Regions from separate parts of the Homo sapiens genome. Here region 1 is linked to region 2. Evidence: fine-mapped expression QTL. A gene starts in region 2. The other region holds a variant in brackets. All regions are shown on one strand. Distances are from middle to middle.

What was found.
Region 1: its variant is fine-mapped to the expression of P2RY2 in whole blood (TOPMed, PIP above 0.99).

What each region holds. Positions count from the first base shown.
Region 1 is chr11:73,185,460-73,198,578 of GRCh38, reverse strand. No RefSeq gene overlaps it. Among named protein-coding and RNA genes, the nearest start is that of IUR1, 9.1 kb to the right of the region's middle. The variant G/T (reference allele first, on the strand shown) is at 8,792.
Region 2 is chr11:73,214,940-73,226,523 of GRCh38, reverse strand. P2RY2 (purinergic receptor P2Y2) reads right to left here and starts at 8,243. Exons shown (of 3, transcript NM_002564.4): 1 at 8,092-8,243. It overlaps LOC124902709 (a long non-coding RNA gene), which reads left to right and starts at 8,331. Exons shown (of 3, transcript XR_007062773.1): 1 at 8,331-8,497; 2 at 10,485-10,681; 3 at 11,336-11,584. RefSeq lists enhancers at 6,972-7,690, 7,691-8,409 and a silencer at 8,123-8,332.

The sequences.
Region 1 (13,119 bases), 29 kb after region 2:
CGTGGCACCTTGGATGGAATCCTGGGACAGAAAAAGGACATTAGGTAAAAACGAAGGAAATGTAAATAAAGTATGGATTTTAGTTAATAATAATTTACTAATACTGGTTCATTTGCCGTGGCCAATATAAGACGTTAGCAGTAGAGGAAAGTGGGTGAGGATATACGAGAATCCTCTGTACCATCTTTGCAACTTTTCTGTGCATCAAAAACTATTCTTTTAAGAAGTTTGTCTACTTGTTCTAAAATTTTATTTTAAATTATTATCCTTAAAAATTGCTTCCTTAAAATGGCTGTAACAGGCTGTTCAGATAGAGGTGACAATGGGGACATGAATGGGGTGGAGTGTGACCTACTAAACAGTTTGTTGTGTAAGGTATCATTTGTTCTCCAGGTGCTAACTGACTCCAGAGTGAAACATAGGGCCTTGCCTGATCTCCACCCTCCCCTTCTAGTTCCTGACCTGCCTCTTTTTGATAGGCCCCTGACTTGGGGACATCCTTATAGACACCAATATCTTCAATATCTTCAAAAGTGCAGACTATGAGAGTCAGGGTCTGGCCGGGCACGGTGGCTCGTGCCTGTAATCCCAGCACTTTGGGAGGCCGAGATAGTGGATCACCTGAATTCAGGAGTTCGACACCAGCCTGGCCAACATGATGAAACCGCATCTCTACTAAAAATACAAAAATTAGCCGCATGTGGTGGTGTGTGCCTATAATCCCAGCTACCCAGGAGGCTGAGGCAGGAGAATCACTGGAACTTGGGAGGCAGAGGTTGCATTGAGCCAAGAATTGCCACTGCACTCCAGCCTGGGTGACAGAGTGAGACTCTGTCTCAAAAAAAAAAAAAGAGTCCGGGTCTCTCTTCTGTAGCCATAAGATCCTACAGCAGTTCTGCTTCCCAGGCCCTGGATCACACATCTTCCCCAGGGCACTTACACCAGGAAGAACTTTAGATGAGCCATTTCACTGCCTTCCCACAGGGGTGCGGCCTCATGGCCCCATGGTTATGTTCTAAGTCAACAGTAGAATGACATCTTAATCCAGCATAATATCCACTGATGCTCCCGCCCACTAGCCAGGGGCCATTTCCTCCTCTGCTGAGTAGAGAAGGTTGGTACATAAGGGCATCACAGACACCATCAATTTGCTCAGAAGGGCATCACCATGGCTTCGACTGGCAGGATAGTGGTTAAGAGGAATGATTTGGAATAGACAACCCTACATTCAAATCCTGATTCTATCACTTATTCGTTTATTTAAACCCTATGACCCTCAGTTTCCACAACTGTAAAATACAGGTAATAAGGTTCTGGACTATTGAAGGTATTGGTAATCCGGAATGTCACTGGCAGAGGGTCTAAAAGTCTCTCCTCTGTGGTTTCCATCGTTTACCTTTTGAAAGTTGAATCTCCAGGCCAGTGCAGTGTCTCACGCCTGCAATCCCAACACTTTGGGAGGCCGAGGTAGGCAGATCACTTGAGATCAGGAGTTCGAGACCAGCCTGGCCAACATCGTGAAACCCTGTCTCTACTAAAAATACAAAAATTAGCTGGGCGTGGTGGTGCACACCTGTAATCCCAGCTACTTGGGAGGCTGAGGCAGGAGAATTGCTTGAACCCGGGAGGTGGAGGTTGCAGTGAGCCGAGATTGTGCCACTGCATTGCAGCCTGGGCAACAGAGTGAGACTCTGCCTCAAAAAAAAAAAAAAAAGAAAGAAAGTTGAATTTCCAGTCTCCTGGTGTTTGTGTTCTCTCTGAGTCCTCGAAACTCTCCGACAGTGGTTCTGTGAGCACAGTAGTGGGCTCCGCTGTGGCTAGGGGTGCAATTCAGCTCAAAACTCCTCTGGAGCAGCTGGGGGAAGGCCAGGAGGGTCTGATACTTGCCCATCCTGACATTTTCACCCCTAACCCTCTGTCAGTGACATTCCCTGTCATGTCATTTACCTGAAGGTTTGTGAACCTCTGGCAAGTTGCGGGGAGAAAGTAAGCAGGAGAAAGAAGCAGGGGTTCACTGGCTCACCAGCCTCCCTTCTGTTCTAACAGTGACCAACAGTGGAAAGAGGACGAAGGCTGTCAATGCCATTTTGGGGAATCATATTTGAATGATTACCTTGTGCTAGGAACCTTGAGCCTCCCTTTCCCGAGCCCTTGGCTCCCAGGTCAAGTGGGAGAACTCTTATAATTCTTTTGTGTCTCTGAATCTTGTCTCCATAATCAAACTAGAAATTACCCATAGGACATATTTCCTTCTCTTCTTGACTCTCTTTATCAAATGTGACCTACAAACCTACTGTAAATATCCCCAGAGAGATATATCATTCCCTGGGTAAGGAAAACTATCGTTGCCATTGTCAGTGGTGAGACTCCATAATCACTATCAAGAATCACTACCTTTACCACATCATCAACCATCATAGCAAATTCTGCTCTCCTCAAAGTGCCTTTAATGATAGTTGTAATTTATTGAACACCTAGTATGTGTCAGATACTGAAACAAGGGCTTTCCATGTATAATCTCAATAGAATTATCTAAAGTCCGTGTTCTTAATAAACAACGCTGTTCCAGCCCTGGTCCAGGAGTGTAAAACCCTCCTACCTTTTGCTGGGAGCGTTTGCATGTGCTGTTGTTGCTGTGTTTTTGCCACTGTGAACACTGCACATGGACAGGCCCTAGAAGACCATCCCAGGGTGTGTGGGAGCCCCTGGGGTAGGGGGACAGACCTGGGAACCTGAGCTGGGCACCAAGCATGCCAAAGGTCTCAGCTCTGCCCATGAACTAAGGGCTGGCAATGACCTTGGAACCAGAAGCTGGCATAACCAGAAAATCAGTGAAACTCCACTAGAAGACAGGGACTTTAAACAGGGCTTCAGGCTCCTGTCAAAACTCTTGGATGGAGCTGATAAGAAGTCCACAGCCTGCAGGGAAATGGCACCTGCTCCCAAAGCCACAAGTCCATTAGTGATACAGAAGCCAGCAAAGAAAGAGAGAACTGGCTGGATCTTGAAGCCAGCAGGGGGAGAGGAAAGGATGACAATGGATTTGCCTATGGCCAGACTTGACTCAGACAGTTACTGGTGAGGAGACTGTCACAGAGGAGCACTCAAGGTCTTGTGCATGCCTGTACCCAGCACTCCTTTATATTTTACAGGGCTGTCATCAGGTGACTCATCACTGAAACCGCCCCATGTCTATCCCAGTGCAAACCTGCCCGGAATCAGGCACATACCTACAGAGGCCAGGGAGGTCCAGGAGGTCTAAGACATGAGCCAATGTGACATGAGCTCCTGGAGCCCTCCAGTGTGCCAAACATTAGCCCTTTCATTGAAGGACTGTGAGGAGGCCCAGGCAGTACACCAAGGGGCAGCCAGGGTGCTGGAGCACTTGGAGGTCTCAGGGCTGCTACAGCTGTGCCATTGTGTACTGACTGCACATCAGCTCCAATTATACCCTGGCATCCAGCACTGTGCCTGGCACATAGTAGGTGCTTATTGGGCACACAAATGAGAGGGTGAAAGGTCCCTGCCCTAGAGGCATTCACAGTCTAGCAGGGGAGACATGGCACACTGCAAACCCGTGAAGAATCTTCCCCAGTGGTAGCCTTGGATTTTGGCCATTGGATACCTTGAGGTAGCGAAGTATGTCCAGGACCAGGTGGAGGGTGGTGCGTGGGGGGTGGTGTGAGCGCAGGCTGCAGGGGAATGCTGCGTGCATGCATGCACAGGGCTCAGCTGTCCCAGGAGTGCTAGGGAACTGCATGACTCAGGACAGGGCGGCAGGCTGAAGGAAGGGTGGGACGACCCAGGATAGTGCCAGTGAACCCATGGGGAACCAGTCTCAAACCTGCCTTCCTGCTTCCCTTCCTCCGTCCACAGTTTACTGCTCCGGGCAAAGTCTGCTGCAGTTCACAGAGAAGCAACAGCTTTGATGGCATCTGCAACCTAAGTCATAAAGATCAAAGTGGGATAAAGCTGGAGTGAGTTTCTGAGTTCCAAAAATAAGTAACATCTCAGAGGTTACTTTAAAAAATAGAGGCAGCTCAGTGCAACAGAAGGAGCTTGAGCCTCAGCATTAGACAAATCTGAGTTAAAATCCTGGCTTAGCCACTGTAGCACCTACACTTCCCAAGCCTCAGTTTCTTCTTTAATCTGGGCACTGGAGATGGTGTCTGTAGGGGGGCCTGGCTCATTTAGCCAGGGCTTAGTGAAGGGTAGGTAGGCATGGCCCTGTCACAGTCATTGCGGGGTCCCCGACCACAGCTGTGAAGGGGTCTGGACAAGCAGATGCTAAACGCCACTGGGACCTGCATACAGGGAGAAAGTCACTCATCTCTTCTAATACTGGAAAGAGATTGTGACTACCTACTAAAATTGCCCCAAGCAACATTCTATGCAGAGGAGAAAGAACAATGTGGTGTGACTAGTCCTTCCAGCCTCAGTGGGACAGCCACACAGTATTTCCCATCTATCAGCTCTCTATCAATTCATCTCCTGTGTCAGGTTATTGGCCAGGGCAAGAGGGAATGAGAGGAGAGGAAGATCCAGTCCCTGACCCCTGGAAATGCAGACTCTTGCAGGGCCAGATTCTCATGAGCAATGGCATGCCATGATGCCAAGCCTCACCAGGTCCAGGCCACGGCCGGAGGTGCCGAGTTCAGGCTGTTTGCATGGTGACCTCTCAGACTTAGTCAGCGTCCCCACCATCCCCAGCTTTAGTTGCATCATTGCACTCTCACTTATGCCACTAATATTCACTGAAGCCTGCTCTGTGGTAGGGCCCGAGTACAACAGAACGTGTCCTCTGCCTGCATAAAGCCTCAGTGACATGGACCAGTTGGTCCCAGTGAAAGGGCGATTCATTCTCTCCTGTTTTGTGATTGTGTGTCTGCCTCCCCACCAGACCGTGTGCTCCATGGAGCAGGGGCTGTGCCTGTCCCGATCACTGTCGGCTCCACTGTCCTAATCACTGCCCAGAGTCTGCTCCAAAGCCTCCTCCAGAGAGGGTGCTCCATTGATTGAACAGCTCCATGAGGAGGAGGGTGACTGACAGCACTCTGGGAACCCAGAGGAGGAAGTCACAACGCTAAAGGATAGCCAAGAAAGGGCTCCTGGCAGAGGCTGTGGGTAAAGTTTGCATAGGATGGAAAGAGGCAGGGCTGGAACAAGCAAGGGTATGGCAGTAGGAATGAGGTTGAGCTTTGCAGGAGTTCTGGGGAAGAGAGGTGGCGAGGTTAGCTGAGTGCAGGCCAGGAAGAGTTCCGGTGCTGCCTCTTGGGGTCTTGGGGTCTCTCTGCCTCTCTACATAGCTCTTAGTTTCCCCTAACCCCAGGGTTCTCACTCCCTCATCCCCCTACCTTCCAACAAATCAAGAAGTTCATGGATAAGGGACCCTGAGGGCAGCAAGGGAGGTGGTGAGAGCTCCAGTTGTCTGAGTCTAAGACCTTCCTCTGATGAAGTCCCAGCTCCAATTACCTTTCCCACCTAGCATGGCCGGAGAAAGTACAAGACGCCCAGTCAAATTTGAATTTCTGATAAACAGTGAAAAATTCTTTAACATAACGGATATTTGGGACATGTGCTTATACTAAAAAGTTATTCATTGCTAATCTGAAATTCAAATTTAACAACATATCCTGTATTGACATTTGCTAAACCTTGCAAACCCTCCCTTGACCCCCGCTTTTCAGCATCTGTCATTCACCCCTGCCCTGAGCCCCCAGGAACCATCAGAGGTTGTGGGCCTCCTGCAACATACTCAACGAAACAGAAATTCAGAGCTGCTAGGAACACTGAAGCTTATCTAGCCCCATTGCTCCCCACTATAAGTGGACTAGGAGGCCGAGGCCCAGAGGAAGCAGGCACTGGCAGGTCCTTGGGCACCTCTCAACAACTTGACTGGAACTTGGGCCTTCATGACAGCAGGAGGACCCTTGGCTGGGGGCTTCTTAGGAAAGGCCAGGGCCCTCCTATTCATCATTCTGGGGCAAGGCAAGGCAGGGAGTCTCCAGGTTTCTGCCCTGACCCTGGGCTGTGGTTTCCTGGATCTTGACACCCCCAAGTGAGTCACCTCCACCTCCCAGGCTACATCTGACTCAGTGCCAAGGCCCTGGGGCTCCTCAGCTCTTACCTGGCTCCCAGGTTGGAGGAGCCAAGTGGGCAGGTTGGGGTGGCTCTTGGGCAGGACTTTGTGGGAGGGACTAGACCTTGTGAGAGGCTCATTTCCCCACAGTCCTCCTCAGGCCCTGGTAATGGTCCAGTCAAGGGCAGCCCTCAGAAACTCCCAATGGTGCGGCTGGGTGCAGTGGCTCACACCTGTAATCCCAGCACCTTGGGAGGCAGAAGCGGGCAGATCACTTGGGGTCAGGAGTTCAAGACGAGCCTGGCCAACATGGTGAAACCCCGTCTCTACTAAAAATACAAAAGTTATCTGGGTGTGGTGACGGGAGCCTGTAATCCCAGCTACTTGGGAGGCTGAGGCAGGAGAATTGCTTGAACTCGGGAGGTGGAGGTTGCAGTGAGCCAAGTTCGCACCACTGCACTTTAGCCTGGGTGACAGAGTGAGACTCTGTCTCAAAAAAAAAAAAAAAAAAAAAAAAAATAGGAACTCCCAGTGGTGCAGCTAGAGCTGAGGAGAAGGTGGAGTGCCTGGTGGCAGGCGGGGTGGGGGTACATGGGTCGGGGGTAGGGACATAGATTTAATTAAAATCACTCAGCCCATCAGGCCTGCAGGGGTCTTCTGTCAAGTGGCCATTCCCCGCTCCCCACTGAAGGTGCCCATCCCTCTGGGCTCTGTTTCTTCCTCTCATCTTTCCATTGTTATGTTATGTATTAGTTTGCTTATTGTCAATGTCTAGTTAGAACATAAATCCTGTTCACTGTTTCAAGATCATAAAACAGTACCTGGCTCAACAAGCTTTGTGGAAATTGCCCTTACTGCATTTCACCTTGTGTGGAACATGGCCCCTGATGCCACAGTCCCCCACCCACCCATGAGCATCTCAGCATCTGCCAGGAGACTGGCTGTGTGCAGAGCTTTGTGTTCCCCCGGTCCAGGTTCCAGTTCCCTCCTCTGATTACAGCCCAGCCTGGGTCCTGGGACTGAGAAAGTAAAAGCACAGGGTTGGGGCAGACTGACAGACAGTGGGTTTAGGGTGCTGCTCAGGGTGGGGCTCTCATCTGCCTGCCCCAGTGCTTCCACCCGAACCACACAAGCCCACAGCACCTAGACGTGGCCCAGGAGCTCAATCCCAGGCCCACACGGAGCTGACCCCTCCCAGCCAGTCGGGCTGAGGGTACAGCACTGAGCCAGAAGCTGATGACCTGTCTGCCTTGACTTGTGACCTGCCAGATCCCTAGGCCTTGCCGGGCCTGGCTCTGTCTGTCTGTACAATGATGGTTCTGGGCTGACTGGTCTCTGAGGCTTGCCAGCTCAGCCCACCCATGGCTTTTTCCTACCCCTTATCTACCTCTAAACCTCTGTGCCAGCCACTCCTGCATTACCCTGGGGGTACTCCTGAGCCAAGGATCTTAGACCCTCCCCTTCACCCTAGTCAGACCCTTTGCTGACCCTTCTCTGGGACCCAAGTCCTGGTCCTATCTGTCTTGGGGACCATAGGCAGTTGGTGCCAAAGACTGTCCCCAGGATACTTGGGATACTTTAAAGTCATCCAGTAAAATGTCATTCAGGGAAAATCTGTCCACATTTACCTGGCTCCAGCCCTCTAATCAATCCTCCTTTGGGACGCCTGCTCCCCTGACATGTCCAAAGCTGATGAACTCTTTATCTTTCCCCAGACCTGCTCTTCCTGTCACAACCTCAGCAAGAGCATCACCAACCAGCCGGTCACCTGGGCCAGGAACCCAGAAGCCACCAAGCCTCCTCTCATTTTCTGCCTGCCCTCCTCCCATCCTTAACTAAATCCTGGCCACCCCTCTGTGCTATCCTGGGGACTGTCCACCTCTCACCTTCCGCTGAACTGCCCAACTTCATCCTTCATCTTTTCCTCCTGAACCTCAAAAGCAGAGGGCCCTTTGACACTGCTGTCTGCCTTCAGTCCATGCTTCATGCAGCAACCAGAGAGGGACCCTGCTGGCCACACACCCAGCCTTGTCACTCCCCTGCTCAAAACCCTTCCATGGTTCCCACTGCCCTCTGGATAAGGTCTGGCTCCTTGGCCTGGCATTCGAGGCCCTCCAGGCTCTGGACCCTGCCAGCCTTATCAGCTCATCTCATGTGGCTGTTCGACTTGCAGCCAAGTATCCTCCAGCTCTCAGCTGTGGCTCACGATGTTCCCTCCACCTAGGAGGCCTCTATTCTTCCACATCTTTAGGTTCCTCCATCCTGAATCATCTGGAGAGTCCGCTCTGGGAATTGACTCCTTATTTAGGGAGGCTGGATAAACAAGGCTTTTCTCAGGCTGCATGTGTGTTTTTAGACTCAGTCAACATTTATCTATTTATTCAGGTACTCAGCCTTTCAAAAAGGATTTGAGGTGGGCTATTCAATATTGATTGTGGGCTACCATGTGCAGCAAAGTCCAGTGTGCACACACACACTCATTCACACACAAGGCCGGGGCACCATGAGAACCAGGAACCAGGCAGAAGCTTGCAAAGGCCTCATGGGGCCAGTGTGAGGATGAGGCACCTGGATTCAGAGGGAGGCCCACCTGGCTCAGGGTAACACAGACAGATATGGGGTTGAGGGTTCAAATCTGAGGTTTTCTGAGCCCAGTTCACAGGGCTGCCCCTGGAGGACTGAAGCCCAGCCCTGTCTTTAGAAAGTTCCTTG[G/T]TTATATGTAGAGAGGGGGCTCTGGAAAATTAAACAAAGCCCACCAGACAGCTCACCTCCCCACAGGGTGCTCAGTGTCCCATCTTATTTAGCCCCCTAGGGTCAGGGAGGAAGCAGGAGCTGGAGATGAGGGGAGGATTTGGAAAGACAGAAGGTAGTAACAGAGGCAGCAAAGGCTGCAGGTGGGGGAAGGAGACCCATAGCTTCCCTCCGTGGCCCCTGCTTGCATTTCCCTTCCCTTTCGCCCACGTCAGCTTCAAGATCTGTTCCTCTTTTCTTCTGCAACATTACTGGCTGGGGGCAGGCTGGGGCGAAGACTGTGGTAGCTGCTCAACCTCTAGGTTCTCATGGGAGAGAACCTAGGCCCCAGCCGAGTGGCGGCCCTGTGGGCACTGCAGACTCCAGAGTTCCCAGCACGCTTTCCGGCCCTTTTCTCCTCCTCTGTACCCCCAGCTAGTCTGTGAGCAGGTATCACCACACCCTTTCCGAGGGGAGGAAACCAAGGACCAGAGCGTTGGTGACAGAGGAAGGACTCCATCCCTTTGTTCTCAGAAGCTAAAATCCTCCCTCTAGAAAGTATCCCAGGTGTGGCTGGGCACGGTGGCTCACACCTGTAATCCCAGCACTTTGGGAGGCTGAGGCGGGCAGATCACCTGAGGTCAGACCAGCCTGGCCAACATGGCGAAAACCCATCTCTACCAAAAATACAAAATTACAAAATTAATAAAAATACAAAATTAGCCAGTTGTGATGGTGGGTGCCTGTAATCCCAGCTACTTGGGAGGCTGAGGCAGGGAGAATTGCTTGAACCTGGAAGGCGGAGATTGCAGTGAACCGAAATTGTGCCATTGCACTCCAGCCTCGGTGACAAAGCGAGACTCATCTCAAAAAACAGAAAGTATCCCAGGTGTCATCTGCTCCTAATCTCTGACAGCCTTGCACAGTAACTGAGTTCAGAAATATGTGTTGGGTTGGCATCAGAGAGGGCCGCTGAGAAGGGGCCTCACCTGTCTGCATCCTCCAGGCATGGAGGCACCAATACTCAGTCTTGATCTCCATGGGCTGTTCTAAATCCTGGGCTCCTCTGCGGTTTCACATACAGGGCATGGGACGTGGAGGTCAGCTCAGTGGGACTCTCCAGGCAGTGGGGAGGGCGGACAGGGGACAAAGATTCTAGTTTCATCTTTTGCAGCCAAAGGTGGGGCTGGCCTGGCCCACTCCTAGGTGACCCTAACTGACCCCAACAGTGAGTGGCTGGGAACTGACCCAGGCTGAGCTGAGGCAGCTGTCAAAGCAGCCCTAAAATTAGCCCCAACAGGGATAGGGAGGGGGGATCTGGCCCAGGCTTCAGGCTCCCATGGCCCCAAGGGACTGAGCCCACACCCCACTCAAGATGGAAGAGGTCAGCCAGAGTTTTGGCAGTGACCTACCCGGAGGCTGGGAGGGGAGATTCACAAGCTAGGATGAACATGGTTCAGAAGGGGGATCGATGGGCAGGAGGCACCCCCTGCTAGTTTCTTGGATCCTATGTGGCTCCCAGCCCCAAGCCCTTCAGAGCCCTGAGAGGAACCAAGGAGAGACTTCACTATTTTTGTTCTCCTAGAACAGGATTGAGGGGGCCAGCCTGTCCTTCCAAGGCTGAACTGGATAACCTCACACCTTAGCATCAACTCCCAAGAGCAGAGGAGGAGCCAGGAGGTGTGTTAGCCTGATTGATAGAGGTGTGGATTGGAGACACCTGGGACAGGCCCAAAGTCAGCCTCATCCTGCCCAGGCATGCAGCTCCACCCACTTTCCTCTGCTCTGCCTTAGTGCTCTGAGAATCTTATTTAAAATGCAGATCCTGGCTGAGTGTGGTACCTCATGCCTATAATCCGAGCACTTTGGGATGCCAAGGAGGGAGAATCACTTGAGGCCAGGACTTTGAGATCAGTCCTGGTAACATAACAAGACCCCACCCCATCTCTACAAAAAACTTTTTAAAAAATTAGCTGGATGTGGCGTCATGTGCCTATAGTCCCAGCTACTTGGGAGGCTGAGGCAGAAGCATTGCTTGATCCTGGGAGTTCAAGGCTGCAGTGTGCTATTGAGTATGATTGTACTACTGCACTGGAGCCTGTCGCTGACAGAGCGAGACCCCATCTCTAAAAACAAAACAAAACAAAATCGGGGCGGGGCGCAGTGGCTCACACCTGTAATCCCAGCACTTTGGGAAGCCGATGTGGGTGGATCACGAGGTCAGGAGATCAAGACCATCCTGGCTAACACGGTGAAACCCCATCTCTACTAAAAAAAAAAAAAAATAGCCAGGCGTGGTGGTGGGTGCCTATTGTCCTAGGAGACAGGAGAATGGCATGAACCTGGGAGGCAGAACTTGCAGTGAGCTGAGATTGCGCCACTGCACTCACTCCAGCCTGGGCGACAGAGCAAGACTCTGTTTCAAAAAAAAAAAAAAAAAAACAAACCAAAACAGATCATGATTCAGAAGAAGATCTGGGGTCAGGTATGAGATTCTTCAAGATTCTAACAAGGTCCCAGATTGGCCCGCAGATCACACTTTGAGCACAAAACTCATTTCCCGGGCAGCTTGGGTGGACCCCAAGGCCAGGGCCCCGTCTTCTCCTATACACAGGTATCCCTACCACAGGTAACCCCAACTCCCATCTTCAGTAGAGCCTGGCATGAGCATATGGGCACCCAGTATACTAGGTGGCTGGCTGGTTTATTGTGGGTTCCTGCATGGGCAGTAGGTGTGTGTGGTAATCCCCGGGCCTCTGTGTCTACTGCATGTCTCTTGTTACATGTGTAAAAAGTGTACAAAGATGCACATATACAATAATGATGAAATAAAAATAGCTAAAGTTTAAAAAGTAGATAATCTTTATTGAGCACTATGCCCAGGGAAGGTACTAGAAATGTTACACTCAGTATCTTATTTAATTCTCATAACAACCCCTGTGAGATGAGAAAACCGAGGCTCAGAGAGGTTAAGTGACTTGCTCAAGGTCACACAGCTGATAAGCAGCAGTAAGGACTGGAATATGCATGTGCACCCGTGCACCCAGTGCGCCCATCTTGGTGCATGTGAGCTTGTGGGCATGTGTGCTGTTGAGTGGGCACAGGTGATGCAGGAGGTGAGCAGCCGCAAGGATGGGGTGGGCGGGGTAAGAGCCATGCACAATGATTCAGAGTGTGAGCTTTCCGCAGGTAGGGAGACAGGAGACCCAGGTGGAGGGAGATGCAGGCAGGAGCCAGCAAGTCTGGGCTTGAGTCTTCATACTGCAGGGCCAGCTTTGACTTCCTCCTTTGTGAAATTAGTGTGATAATATTTGCCTCACAAGGCTCTGCTGTGAGAAAGAAACGCAATAATAACGCAAAGTGTGCCACGCGGGCCTGCCTGGCACACAGCAGGCACTCAAGATGTGTGAGCTGGCCCTTCCTTCCCCTAGGGACTGAACTGCTTGGGAGTGACTTGTGCCCTGACTGGTAGCAGCCAGCTCACTGGATTAAAGGAGGCATCCTGGGGAGGGCTGGGGACAAGTGGTGAAAAGGCATGGAGCGTGGAGTGGGTTGCAGCTGAGGGAGCACCCAGGGAGGGACGGACATTTGAACAGAGCTCAGAGACTGGCCCACCACCTTTCCCTTGGCAGAGACAGGAGAAGCTGCAAGGCTGGAGATGCCCCAACTCCGGAGAAGTCCTCTCAGGAAAGCAAACACCCTGTCCCTTGACTCAGCCCTCAGCTATGCCAGACACATCAGCCCTCACGGTCCTGCAGGCCATGCCCACTGGAGACCAGATCTCCTCTGGGCCGGGCCGGACATCGTTTAGGCTGGGCCTTCGGAAGTGCCCAGTGACTCACTTACCCTTCCTCCATCCACAACCCGATCTTGCTCCTGGAGCTGGAGTCCCCTGAGGCTGCCCACACGTGGGTGGCTCCCAGAAGGTGGAGCTGTGAGGCATCATGGGGCAGACCCTTACCCCTCAGCAAGTCCGCTGCCTAAGTCCCTCCTCGTGGGTGGTGAGCTGCCTCCTGCAGGGCTCTGTAACAAGCAGGTGGTTGCCTGGGTGGGTGTCAGTCTCCCCTGGGACCCGGAGTGGAGGGGCACCCAGGTGGATCCCCCAGGCCATCCAGAAGCAGGTGCTGGGAGTGGAACCCCAGGCACACAGTTGCCGAGAACTGGCTTGCCGTGGGAGGCTGGATTGAAGTGCTGGAGGACCAGAGGACTCACAACATCCACCTCCATCATCTTCCGCGTGAGGAGTCTCAGCCCAAAAGAGGGCCATCACCAGGCCGGGATCATCTGCAGAAGGCACAGATCCCACCTCA
Region 2 (11,584 bases):
GCTTGGGTACGGGGGGCGTGGGTGCACACGGGAAATGCCTCTGGGCCACTGCTTACTGAGTGCACCTTGCCTGGTGGTCTCAGATTGACAAGGCCGGTGGGCTGGTAGCTCCCCACTGATCTACTCTAGAGACTATGACAAGGTGAGGGATGGTCAGCCTTTTCACCCTGCTGCACCCAGGTGCACACCCTGTCTCCTCCTCCTTAGAAAATGCCTTGACTCAACAGGCTAAAATGGAGAATATCACTTTCCACAAGTGGTTCTCATTTCTGAGAAGGGCCCCCACCATCCTTCCAGGTTTCAAACCTCTGATACAGCCTGGACAACCTCCCTCTTCCCCACCCTGCTGGAAGCCCACCACTCACCAAGCCCTGTTAGTCCAACCAGTGAAATTCCTCGGACATGCACTACGCGGTCCCCACACTGCAGCCCGAGGCCTGTGCTTCCACAGTCCACAGCAGCAGCCTCCTCACTGGCCTCCGTGCCTCCACCCCTGCCCCGTCTGTCCACCTTTCACACTGCAGTCATGTAGTTTCCTGAAACACGAATCCTACCATACATTGTTGAGCCATGTTTGTGGCTCCCTAGTGCCCTCAGGCAACTGTCCCAGCTCCTCAGCCTGGCACTCAGGCCCTGGCTGATCTGGTACCCACCATCCCTCCAGAAAGCCCATCCTCTCTGTCCCTGCCCTCATCTTCCTGTCTCAGGCACAACAAAAGCAGTCCCATGGTCATATCATTGCTCAGAGACGGCCTCCCTTATCATCTAACACCTATATCACAACAAGAGTTTAGTGCTGTCCCTGTGCCAAGTTCTGTGTTAGGTGGCTTCATATACCTCCTCTCGTTGAATCCTGAATTAGCAAACGGCATAGCCACTCTGGGCTGTCTGATTTCAGAGGCTGTGCCCCTGACCACTACCTCCTGCCCTGCAAGGCCCCGGCCCTCTCCCAGGAAGCTGCCTGACCATCCCTTTTTGGCCCCACAGCTCTCTGCCTGTCTGCTCAGTTCTCTGCCAGAGGAATGCCAATTGGCAGGGCTCAGGATTTACTCTTTTCAGATGGGTGGTTATTGCACCCATCTCACAGGTAGAAAAACTAAGGCCAGAAAGGGGTAGCTCAAGGTCTCACCCAAGGTCACCAGTGAGCCAAGGGCAGAGCCAAGCCTAGCATGCAGACCTGTAACCCCCTGACCTGGCTCTGCCCCTACCCCAGTCTGGGCCTTTCTCTTTGTGGTTCTAGGCTAGTGAGGCCAAAGTCAGGAGGAGGAGCTGGGCAGCTCCCAGGCCACTGCAGAATTTCCAGGGTGGTTGGATGACATTCCAGCCCCTCCACTAGAGTGGCTCTGGAATGTGCCTCCCTGGCTGGTGGCAGACCCTGTCTAGCCTGGTAGGGGAGAATGTGCTGTCACCACTGTGGAGACCCCTGCTGCCTATCTCTGCCAGGAGTTGGGTGCTGTGAGGGAAAACAGAGGACCTAGTGCCAGAACCTCATTGAGGGGGCAAGAGAGGCACTAGGCAGGTGGGAAATCCGAGTTCTCCTCTTTCCAGTGGTAAGACAAGTCTCTTAACTCCAAAACCCAGATCTCAATTTCCTCTCAATATCAGAACAGTACCTGCCTCAGAAGGTTGTTGAGCTAGTTAGATGATTTAGGCTTATTTTATGAAATAGTAAGAGAGAATATTTCAGCAGGTAAAGAAGGCATGGAGGGTGGGGTTATCTCAGGAAGACAAGAAGGGCAGGAAGCTTCGCAGGAATTATGGGAAGGGGATACAGGAAGGTCACAACCAGAAAAACCACAGATCAGGTCTCCCACACTGAAGGCCATCCTCAGGGGGAAGGCAGTCCAGGGATTCCCCAGCAGAAGCCAGATAGCCACCATACTCTTTCACTCGCTCACCCTTCACAAAGGTTGCCACATCTATGCCCACTGCTGGGCAGGGCACCTGGGGACTCTGAGGTAGGTCAGATCTCAAGGAATTCACTGTCAACGTCAGGGGAGGCACACTCAGAAACAGGCGATGATAACACAGGGTGATCAGGCCTGGAGGAAGCCAAGGAGGCCCCTAACAGGATTGGAGGGGTGATGAGGGAAGGCTTCCTGGAGGAGAGAGCGCCTGACCTGCATTTTGGAAGACGAGGAGTCAGGTGGTTGGAGAGAGAAGAGGAGCAGAGTGAGGATGAACAAGAGATGACATGACACGTTTGAGGAACTGCTCATCATCCTGGTGGCTTGAGGGGAGTGGAGAGGGCAAGGCTAGAGTGCACAGGCTGAGGAGCTTAGAAGTCACGCTGGCTCCTCCCCAATGTCCTTCAAGGGGCTGAAAGCCAGCAGGCCCCCTGCCTTGCCTGACATGCTTCTGCACCGGGAGCACCAGGGCCGGTCTGAGGAAATGGCTAAGGGGTAACCTCAGATGCTATCAGCCGGTGCTGTTGTGGTGTTAGGCACCCCCTTCAGGAGGCCCTTGGGCTCTCTACCCCCTCCCAGATGTTCTCTCCCTCTTTGGGACCCCCCTAGGATCCTGGCTGTGGAGGCCACTCACCAAGGCTGAGCTCAGAGCAGCATCAGAGTGGGTAAGTCTCAGATCAACCAGGCTTACAGATCAGAAAGCCAAGACCTCTAAAGAGGAAGGGCCTTACTCAAGGTCTAGTGTTCCAATTATTGTCAGTGTGGGTTTGACCACCTCACCCCCAACATAGAGCAGGACCCCAAACCACCCATCTCACCTGGAACCCAGCATAGCCCAGAACAGGGCTACAGAGACATGCTACTAAATTAAACAGGCTCAGAACCACAACGTCCTGGACACCACCCCAACCTATCACAGCCAAATGCCTCCAGCTTCAAGAGGCAAGAACCGTGAGTTCAGGCTCTAACTTGGAGCCACCTGTGCTGTGCAGTCTTGGTGAAGTCAGCCCCCCTTCTCAGAGCCTCGGGTTCTTCAGTGGTCAGATGGGGAGAATCACTGCTGCATGGGACAGCTCATGAGGAATAAGACAAGGGGGCAGGTGGGTGCACCTTGGCGCTAGCAAATCATGAACTGTCCTAATGTGGAGGCTGTGTCTGCCTGTCACAACAGGGAGACACTGAAATTCAGGAGCCCATGACACTGCTTGGTAGGGAGGCCCTCCCAGGTGTTCCCCAGCAGAGGGACAGAGGTCATGGTCAGAGCAGTCAGGCAAGGTCCCTGGAAGGGGAACTGTGATAAGATTTGAGGAGGAGCAGGAAGGGTCCAGCTTGGGAGGAAAGAAGGTGGATGGAGAATCCAAGGTGGAAAGGGGGATGAAAGCATCAACCAGGAACCACATGAGCCTCTGATTCTGAGATGGCCCCTCCAGGTACCTCCAGGATTCTGAGTTCCCTGGTTCTCGCAGTCTAATTCCAAGAGGCTCTGGTTCCGGGTGTGAAGGCTGTGTTTCTTCAATTCTATTACTCGTTGCTCCTGATAGCCTTTGGTTTTGAGATTCTCAGAGCCACAGGGGTCTGGATTCAGAGTAATGAAATCTTAAATCACATTCCCAGGAACCACAAAGTCCCAGCAAACACTTGCCAATGCTCTGGTGCACCTGGCCTCAGATGGACCTTGTGAACTCAGACTCAGATTGCACTCTGCTGGGCCCTTGAGGAGTACCCAGTCAGGCTGAGGAAAAAGACACAGACATGGACCAAATCCACTTGGGTGAATAAACCATAACCAAGGCAAGCCCAGGGGTTATGGAGCACACAGCAACTCCTACCTGGCCTGGGGGAGGTGGTCAGGGAGTGCTTCTGCAGAGGAGGGGTCATCTGAGCTGGAAACTGGTAGATGATTAGGAGTTTGTCAGGTGGGCAAAGAGGGAGGAGGGCTCTGAAGGCAGGAGAGGCATGAGCAAAGACTTGGTGGATGAAAGTGTGACCTGCTGGAAAAAGGCTGGGAGGTCTTATACGGCTACTGTGGAGGGTGAGGTGGCATGGAATGTGTGGGAGCCTGAGGAATTCACTTGAAAAGGCTCAAATGCCAGGCTGAAAAGCTTGGCCTCTATTCTAAGGACACTGAGGAGCCATGGAAGGCTTAAGAGGGGAAGGACATGGTCAGAGTCAACCTTTACAAAGATGGTGCCACATGGAAGGTAGATGGGACAGGGAGTCTGGAGGGAGGGAGACCAAGGAGGAGACGACACATACGGTGGTGCCATGAGAGGAGCAGGTCCCTTGGCCCTGGATTTCCTGCAACAGCCCAGCCATGGCAAGAGTCCCCCTCCTACAAGCCAGGGCTGGGTGGCTGGGCACTCACCAGGAAGCCAGGTCGACACCCAGAGGCTCTCCTCAGACCTGGGGAGGGAGAGGCCACATAAAGCCCCAGAAGTCTGAGGGAGGTCCCTTTCCCTCACTCCAGCACCCAGGCCTCTCATTCAGGAGCTACAATGACAGTGACAAGGTACCAGGGCAGAGGGTCAAGGAGTTGTTCCACGGGGCCCAGGCTGCTCACCCTCCTACCAGAAACTCCCGCTACTCATCTTGGACCAGGAAAGACTCAGGCCTAGGAGATGGGGTGATGGGGTGGAGGAACTCCTCTGCTCCAGAACCAACTATGGCACTCCGTGGAGCAAAGCCTCCCCTTCTACTCCATGCCTACTCCCGCCTGGCCACTCATTTCCCAAAGACCCACTGGCAGCTGCTCTGAGCCCAACCTGTGGTGGCTGATGGGGACAGAGAGAGAAAGCAGGTATGGCCTAGCCTAGTCCTGCAACTGGCCGCTGGATGAGTACAGAGGTCAGAGTGGCCCACACAGCCAGCCTCCTCCTATCAGGGCCCAGTAATAAGGGAAGGCCAGGCCTCAGGACCCAAGGACAACCAAGAGGAGGTGTGGCCCAGAGGGTATAGCAAGCAGGCCTACAGAAAGCAGTTTGGGGAGAGGCGGTTTGGGTGGAAGGCATGAGGGGCAACCCCCACTCCCCTCACCAGATCAACAAGGCATCTCTGGTCCCGTGGGCAGGTCTGGGCAGGCGTTACCTTATCAGCAGTTGGGTAATCTGGCCACAAGAAAGCCCCAAACACAGGTTCCCAGGGCAGAATTCAAACTCCCCTCAGCCTGGAAGCCAGAGGACCAGGCCTAACCCTAACAGGGCTCTGTCTCAGATGGGGAGGGCTAAGCTGGCAGGTGGACTGGAGCCCCAGGTTTCACCTCAGCTTGGTGACCCTGGGCAGGATACAATCCATGCCTCTATTTCCTGATCTGCAAAATGGAGATACAATTCCTCCCTCACAGGGCTATAGGAAGACAAAATGGATTGTTGTAAATCGTTACTAGTGAAGCCATCTCTGCAGAGGGGGTGGGGGAGGAAGGCATTCAGTAATCAAATTTCAATAACAAGCACAATCCCTTGCTATTGCACCCATGTTCTCTTATAGTCTTCAAAATGGATTTAAGTCTACAAGTGTCACATTCCTCCTCTGAGCACTGCAGTTTAAGGCTTATAAAGCTCTTCCCTGGTCACTATCTTAATCCTCGTAGCAACTCTGCTCTCAAAGAAGCAAGGATCACCATTCTCAATTTACAAATGGCAGAACTGACACCTAGAGAGGGACAATGGCCTCTCTAAAGACTATAGCCATTAAGTCAAAGCTCTCATGGGGTCACTCATGAGGCCCTGGTGATACCCTCACACCTTCTTAGCTGGTCCTTGGGGGATCCACAGCCTTAGAGCCCCATGCATCCAGGGCAGGAGGGAGACAGAAACAGAGGAGTCACAGCCTCACTCCACAGCCCAAGCTTGGTAGTCATTTCTGAGGGTTGCCCACTGGGATCCCCAACCCCTCTGACCAGACTCCAAGACAGCCCAAGGCAGGGAGAAGAGGAGAAAGAGCGACAAGCCTTTTGTGCCAGAGCCTCCCCACACACATACTCTCCCATGCAGGATCTTACTTGTTCTGGCCTCCTTTTAGAGCCTGGCAGGGCAGGAACTGGTCATTCAACCAGCTGGGAACAGAGCTGGGATGAGATCAATTGCAGGTCCCCAAATTCCTCAGCAGGAGCATCTGAAGGCTCAGGGAAAAGTGTTTGGCCAAGGGGCAAGGGCTCAATTAGGGTTCAAACAACTCCTGGGACAGTTCTAGTGTTGACATCACAAATGCCCTGACCTCCCTGCACTTGGCAATACTTGATCCATTCTCCATCCTGCAGCCAGAGAGCGCTTTCTGAAATGCCGCTCTGACCATGAAACACCTCTGCTCATAAATTTCCATGGCTCCCTATTGCCTTCAGGATAAAATCTCTAGGTCTTTAGCCTGGGCACTCTAGGTCCTACAGTGTCCCAGATCACACTGTTCTGGCAAACTGTGCCACCCACTTTGATAACCAGATTCTGGTTTGCCCTTCTTTGTAGTGACATGGAGCTCCCCTGCAGCCGGGCCTTTACTGGAGAAGCTGGTGCCAGAGACAGGGGATGGGCGCCACTGCTGCTCTCTCAGTTCAGCTCAGCCCTGTGCAGGGTGCTGGCAACACAGAAATAATAAGACCCAGTTTCTGCCCTCCAGGAGCCCCTAGACCTGGGAAGAGGAAAGGAGGAGACAGACATAGATCATGACGGTTCAGGTGGGACCAGGGCTGTCAGCCCCAGGCCTGTAGGGGCCTAGAAGAGGCTCCAACCCAGCTGTAGGGATCAAGGAAGGCTTTCCAGAGGAGAGGACATCTGAGCTGGGTCCCAAGTCTGGGTAGTTCTCCAGTTGAGGAAGGTGAGAGTAGGAGGGCTTATCAGAGAGGGAGTGTAGAATATGCAACAGGCCAGGGGCAAGAAATGAGAGACTCCAGGCAGCTGCTGCAAGGTAAAGAGTCAGGCGGGAGAGGTGGCTGGAAAGGCTGGCAGGCCCCAGTTATCAAATACCTTAAGTCCCAGGCTACAGGGTTCAGGCTTGGTCCTGTGGAAGGCTTGTGCCCTAGGGAGGGGCACAGTTGGGATTCTGGTTCTGGGAGGCTCCTTCCAGGGACTGACTTCCCATCCCCAAGCTGTGAGCCTGCCCATGGGGGGACACTGGTGCTGAACATGACACACTCATCAGCTCCTCAACAGCCCTCAAATTCCTTATCATTAGTCCCTTCTTACAGACGAGGCCACTGAGGCTCAGAGAAAGGACGGCTTGCCCAGGCCACACAGTGGCCAAGACAGGATTGGAACATAGATCTCTGAGTCTCCAGAGCTCTCTTGTGGACCTGTCTGCTCAGAGAATCTTCTTCCTTCCACTTCCACCCACAGGTAATAAACTTGCCTGGGTCTCCACCCAGATCCTCAAAACTCATAATTATTTCAGCTTAGATCCAAAACAAACCAGGCAGATCAGGCTGTGGTCCTGGGAAGCTGGGGATGCCATGCTGAGAGGAACAGCAGCCATGGACCCCACAAATCCCGAGCTGGCAATTCTGGTCTCCAGCAGTCCCCAACCCTTGGGCTGCGCTCCTGGAGGACCCCAAGAGGGCCACTGGCAGCCTTCGGGTTGGGGGGTGGGGTATCGCCTTTCTCCTGACTGACCCTTTCTACCGCACCATTTGCCAGATTAAAAGCCCGGGGACAGAGGCTTAACTGTCCTTTCTGGCCACTCCCTCCTCCCCCGCCCACTCCCTGCAACTGCCCCCTCAACATTACCAATGGTAGGTGGCCACCCAGAGTGACCCTGGGGTTAGGACAGTGGTAGGGGGTCTCCAGGGGTTCGCGTCTCTGGGCACCGGCCACCGCCTCACGCCACGGGGACGCTCACATCGGAGCACACACAGACAAGTTCCGCAGGCTTGGCCAGTCGCCCCGAGGGGCGCACACACTCACCCGCTAACACGCAGACCTCCCCAGTACGCTGACGCGCACAGCCTCACTACTGGGGCGCCCGTCCACACTCACCGAGACCGACGCTCCCGTGGAGACAAAGTTCAACCACGGACCCACAGGCGCGTTCAAGCCGTCCAGTTATGCGCTACACGCCGGCTCGCAACTGTGCCCCGGGGCGACAGCCGCTCCACAGCGCCCTCCCCTGCCCCGCGCCCAGTCCGCACCTGCGCCAGTCTGGCCCGCCGCTTCCCCGGGCCTCTCCCAGCGCCTTGTTCCCTCCAGACGCCCCACCCCACCTCTCGCCACTGCGCTGCGCTTCTCCTCTCAGGGTGCCGTCGCCGCCGCTCCCGGGTGCCAGTGCCCGGGTCCCGCCGCAGCCGCAGAGACCCACGTGCCTGGGAGCCCGGCTACCCACCTCCCTGCGCTGTTCCCCAACCCCGAAGCCGGGCCAGGCAGGGGGCGGGGCGGACTTTTGACTGACCCTGGCACCGCCCTCAACCCGCCCGGGTAGACACCGCGCCACCCGCTCCGGGACGCCGCCCAGCGACAAGGCCGCGGGGTCAGCGTGTCTGTACCGGTGCTGCAACGGGAGGGTCGGGCGGCGACGCTCTCACTGCCGGGCCAGAAGGAGGCCTCCCGGCTCCCTCACGCTAGAAGGGAGCTGGTTACCAGAGGTTTTCAGAGACGCCAAAGTTTTGCCAGGTCAGCCCGGTGCCTGCGTGGCCCACTGCGGGACCTTTGCGCCCAGCCACCGCGCCACCCTACCCCTGTCCCGCCCCTGCCCCAGCCCGGCTGGCCAGGAAGGGACCTACTGGGAGATACCTGCTCGGAACCCCAGGCTAAGGACGTACCTCCCTTGCTTGAAAGTGGGGGAAGGGGGTGCCTCTCTCCATTACCGTGGTTAGGAAAGCAGGGTACTCAGGATCCCGCCTCTCCCGTGCTCCCCACTTTCCCTGCCTTAATCTTATCAGCAGCTCCCTGAACTCCCCACTCTGGCCCCTTATCTTGAGCTGCTTTACCTCTCTTCTCTGTCGTCAACCCCACTCTAATGGCCTTCCCTGGTCGGGCTACCGGCTGCATGTCTGACCCGTTCGGAGACTGTGAGCTCCCGAGGGCAGGAACCAGGTCTGCCTTCTTCCTGCTGCTGTCCTAGAGGTCCTGGGAGGTGCTCAATCCTTGAAGGTGTGAATGGATGAATGAATGAGCACCCCGCCTCTCTCTCATTTCTGGTCTAGGAATCAGGAGTGTAGGTTCCTGTCTGGCTTCAGCACTGACTCTGGGAGACCTTGACCCAGTTCCATTCCCTGGCAGGGTCTTCTTTCCTGTGAAATGGAGCCAATCGCTCCGCTGGCTGGACAAGTGCAGAGGAGGCCTCTTCCTGTAGCCAAGGAACTTGCCCCGGGCCTTCGGGGCCTTGGGCCCTCTTGGGCTCCATATCAGCTGACTGGGCCTGGCTGCCAGGAAGGGTGCTGGCTGCAGCCCCACCAGGAGCAGTAGCAGAGTGGACACACAGCCCATAGTGGCTGAGCCGCCTCTGCAGTCCTGCTGGGGCCTTTGCTTGGGAGACACAAAGGCCCCTTGTCTAGCCTCCTGCGCCTATTGTCTAAGCTGGGCCACGCACCTTCCAGGGACCTAAGTATCCTCATAGCCCGAGTTATAGGGCCTAGGCCTTCAGGTTCCAGTGTGGGGAAGACCCTTTGGGCACTGGAACTCCAGCCAACCCTCTCTTTCTCTCCCCTCTTCCAAAACTTCAAACCTTATACTGTCACTGCCATTTAGCCCAGGAGAAACAAGTTTCTTTGACGCCAAGTTGAGGACCCAGGCTCGACCTTAGCCTTCAGCGGGCAAATCTGGTTGGTGGCCTGCCCAGGGCTCTGCCCCTGCTCTGGCCCAATTCCCTTACTTTACAGCTGAGGAAACTGCATTCCTGAGACATACAGCGTTTCAGCTACCACACAGGTGACTTAGTGAGGCTTGAGGAGCAGAGGAAGGGGCCTAGTCCTTGAACCCCATAGCCTTGGGTTTAGATTCCAGTCTTACCTCACCTGTCCTATGACTCCTCTCTGAGCCTGAGTTTCCTCTTTTGCAAAAGGGAGTAATACTAATCTCTCACTTGCTGGCCTGTCTTAAATTTTTTGAGAAAGGGCCTCACTCTGTCACCCAGGCCGTAGTGCAGTGGCATGATCACAGCACACTACAGTCTCTATGTCCCAGGGCCAAGGGATCCTCCCATCTCAGCCTCCCAAGTAGCTGGGAATACAGGCACATGCCACCATGCCGGGCTAATTTGTAAATTTTTTGTAGAGATGGGATCTCCCTGTGTTGACCAGGCTGGTCTCAAACTGCTGAGTCCAAGCAGTCCTCCTGCCTCGGCCTCCCAAAGTGCTGGGATTCCAGGCATGAGCCCCTGCACCCTATCCTTAAATTCTTTTTTCATGGTTTTATTCATCATCCCAAGCTGTCTGGGCTCAAGGCGTTAGTATCCCATGCAATGAGGGCCTAGAAGTTTCGTCTCCTGACATCCTCCCCAGGCAGTCCCATCGCTGGGTTTCAGAGGCCATCAAGCCCAGCAGGCTTCAAATCCCCCAACAGAGTCCCCCTTACCTGGGGCTGCCTGGGGAACTCCCATCCCACTTCAACTTGAGCACCTTTGCCTTTGTATTTTTATTTATTTACATTTCCTGGTAAGAATTTGTTGCAAGCACATGAAAGATTTTGTGGCTGAAGTAATGTAAAACCATTGATCAAACCGGAAATTGAGACACAGCCAGCGTCACACAACAGGCCATCTGAAAGGCTGGAATAGCATCGAGGGAGTCTCCCTGGAACCAAGCAGCCAAGGCAGGCTAATGGTGAAGGCCCAGGCACAGTAATGGTCCCCTGGAGGTGGGTAATGGAACCATGGGGGCGGGAGGAGGGTTCCATTAGCAGTAGCAGATCAGGAGGGGAAGGGCAAAGTTCCAGCCTCAGCTTCTCCCATGTATTAGGAGGCTTCCTGTCTCTCCAGCCCTGAGGAGGTATTTGGCTCATTCAGGCCTTTTCATCCTCCTTCTCTCAACTTCTCTCATTGCCCCTGGGAAAACTTGCTCTGAAAATGCATGCTGGGGATGAAGCCTCTGCCCTGGCCCAGGCTCCAATCCCCCCTTCCCAGGGTACAGTGGTGTCTCTGTTGCCCCTTGATGCCATACCCTGCCTTACACTCTCTGGTGGCTCCACCATCCTCTGGATAAAGCCTAGCTCTCTAGCCTGCCACTCCAGCCTCCCTGCCTCTCTGCCTCACCTCTCACCTCTGACCAGCCTCCTGTTGCCTCTTGCTGCTCCCTCTGCCCACAGTGCCCCCTGCTTCTGGCTCCCCACCATGGGTCCTCGAAGACCCAGGCCAGGTGCCCCACCACTTACCATGCTGTTATTGCTATCACTGCCTGTCTCCCCCTCTAACAGGGATCTCTCTGAGAGCAGAGCCAGGTTCCATTCTGTTCACAATTAAATGGCCAACACCTAGCACTGTCCCTGAATAATTTTTCTTTTTTTTTCTTTGAGATGGAGTCCTGCTCTGTCATCCATGCTGGAGTGCAGTGGCGTGATCTCAGCTCACTGCAACCTCCGCCTCCTGGGTTCAAGTGATTCTCCTGCCTCAGCCTCCCAAGTAGCTGGGATTACAAGTGTGCACCATCACACCCTGCTGATTTTTGTATTTTTAGTAGAGACAGGGTTTCACCATGTTGGCCAGGCTGTTCTTGAACTCCTGGCCTAAAGCGATCCACCCGCCTTGGCCTCCCAAAGTCCTGG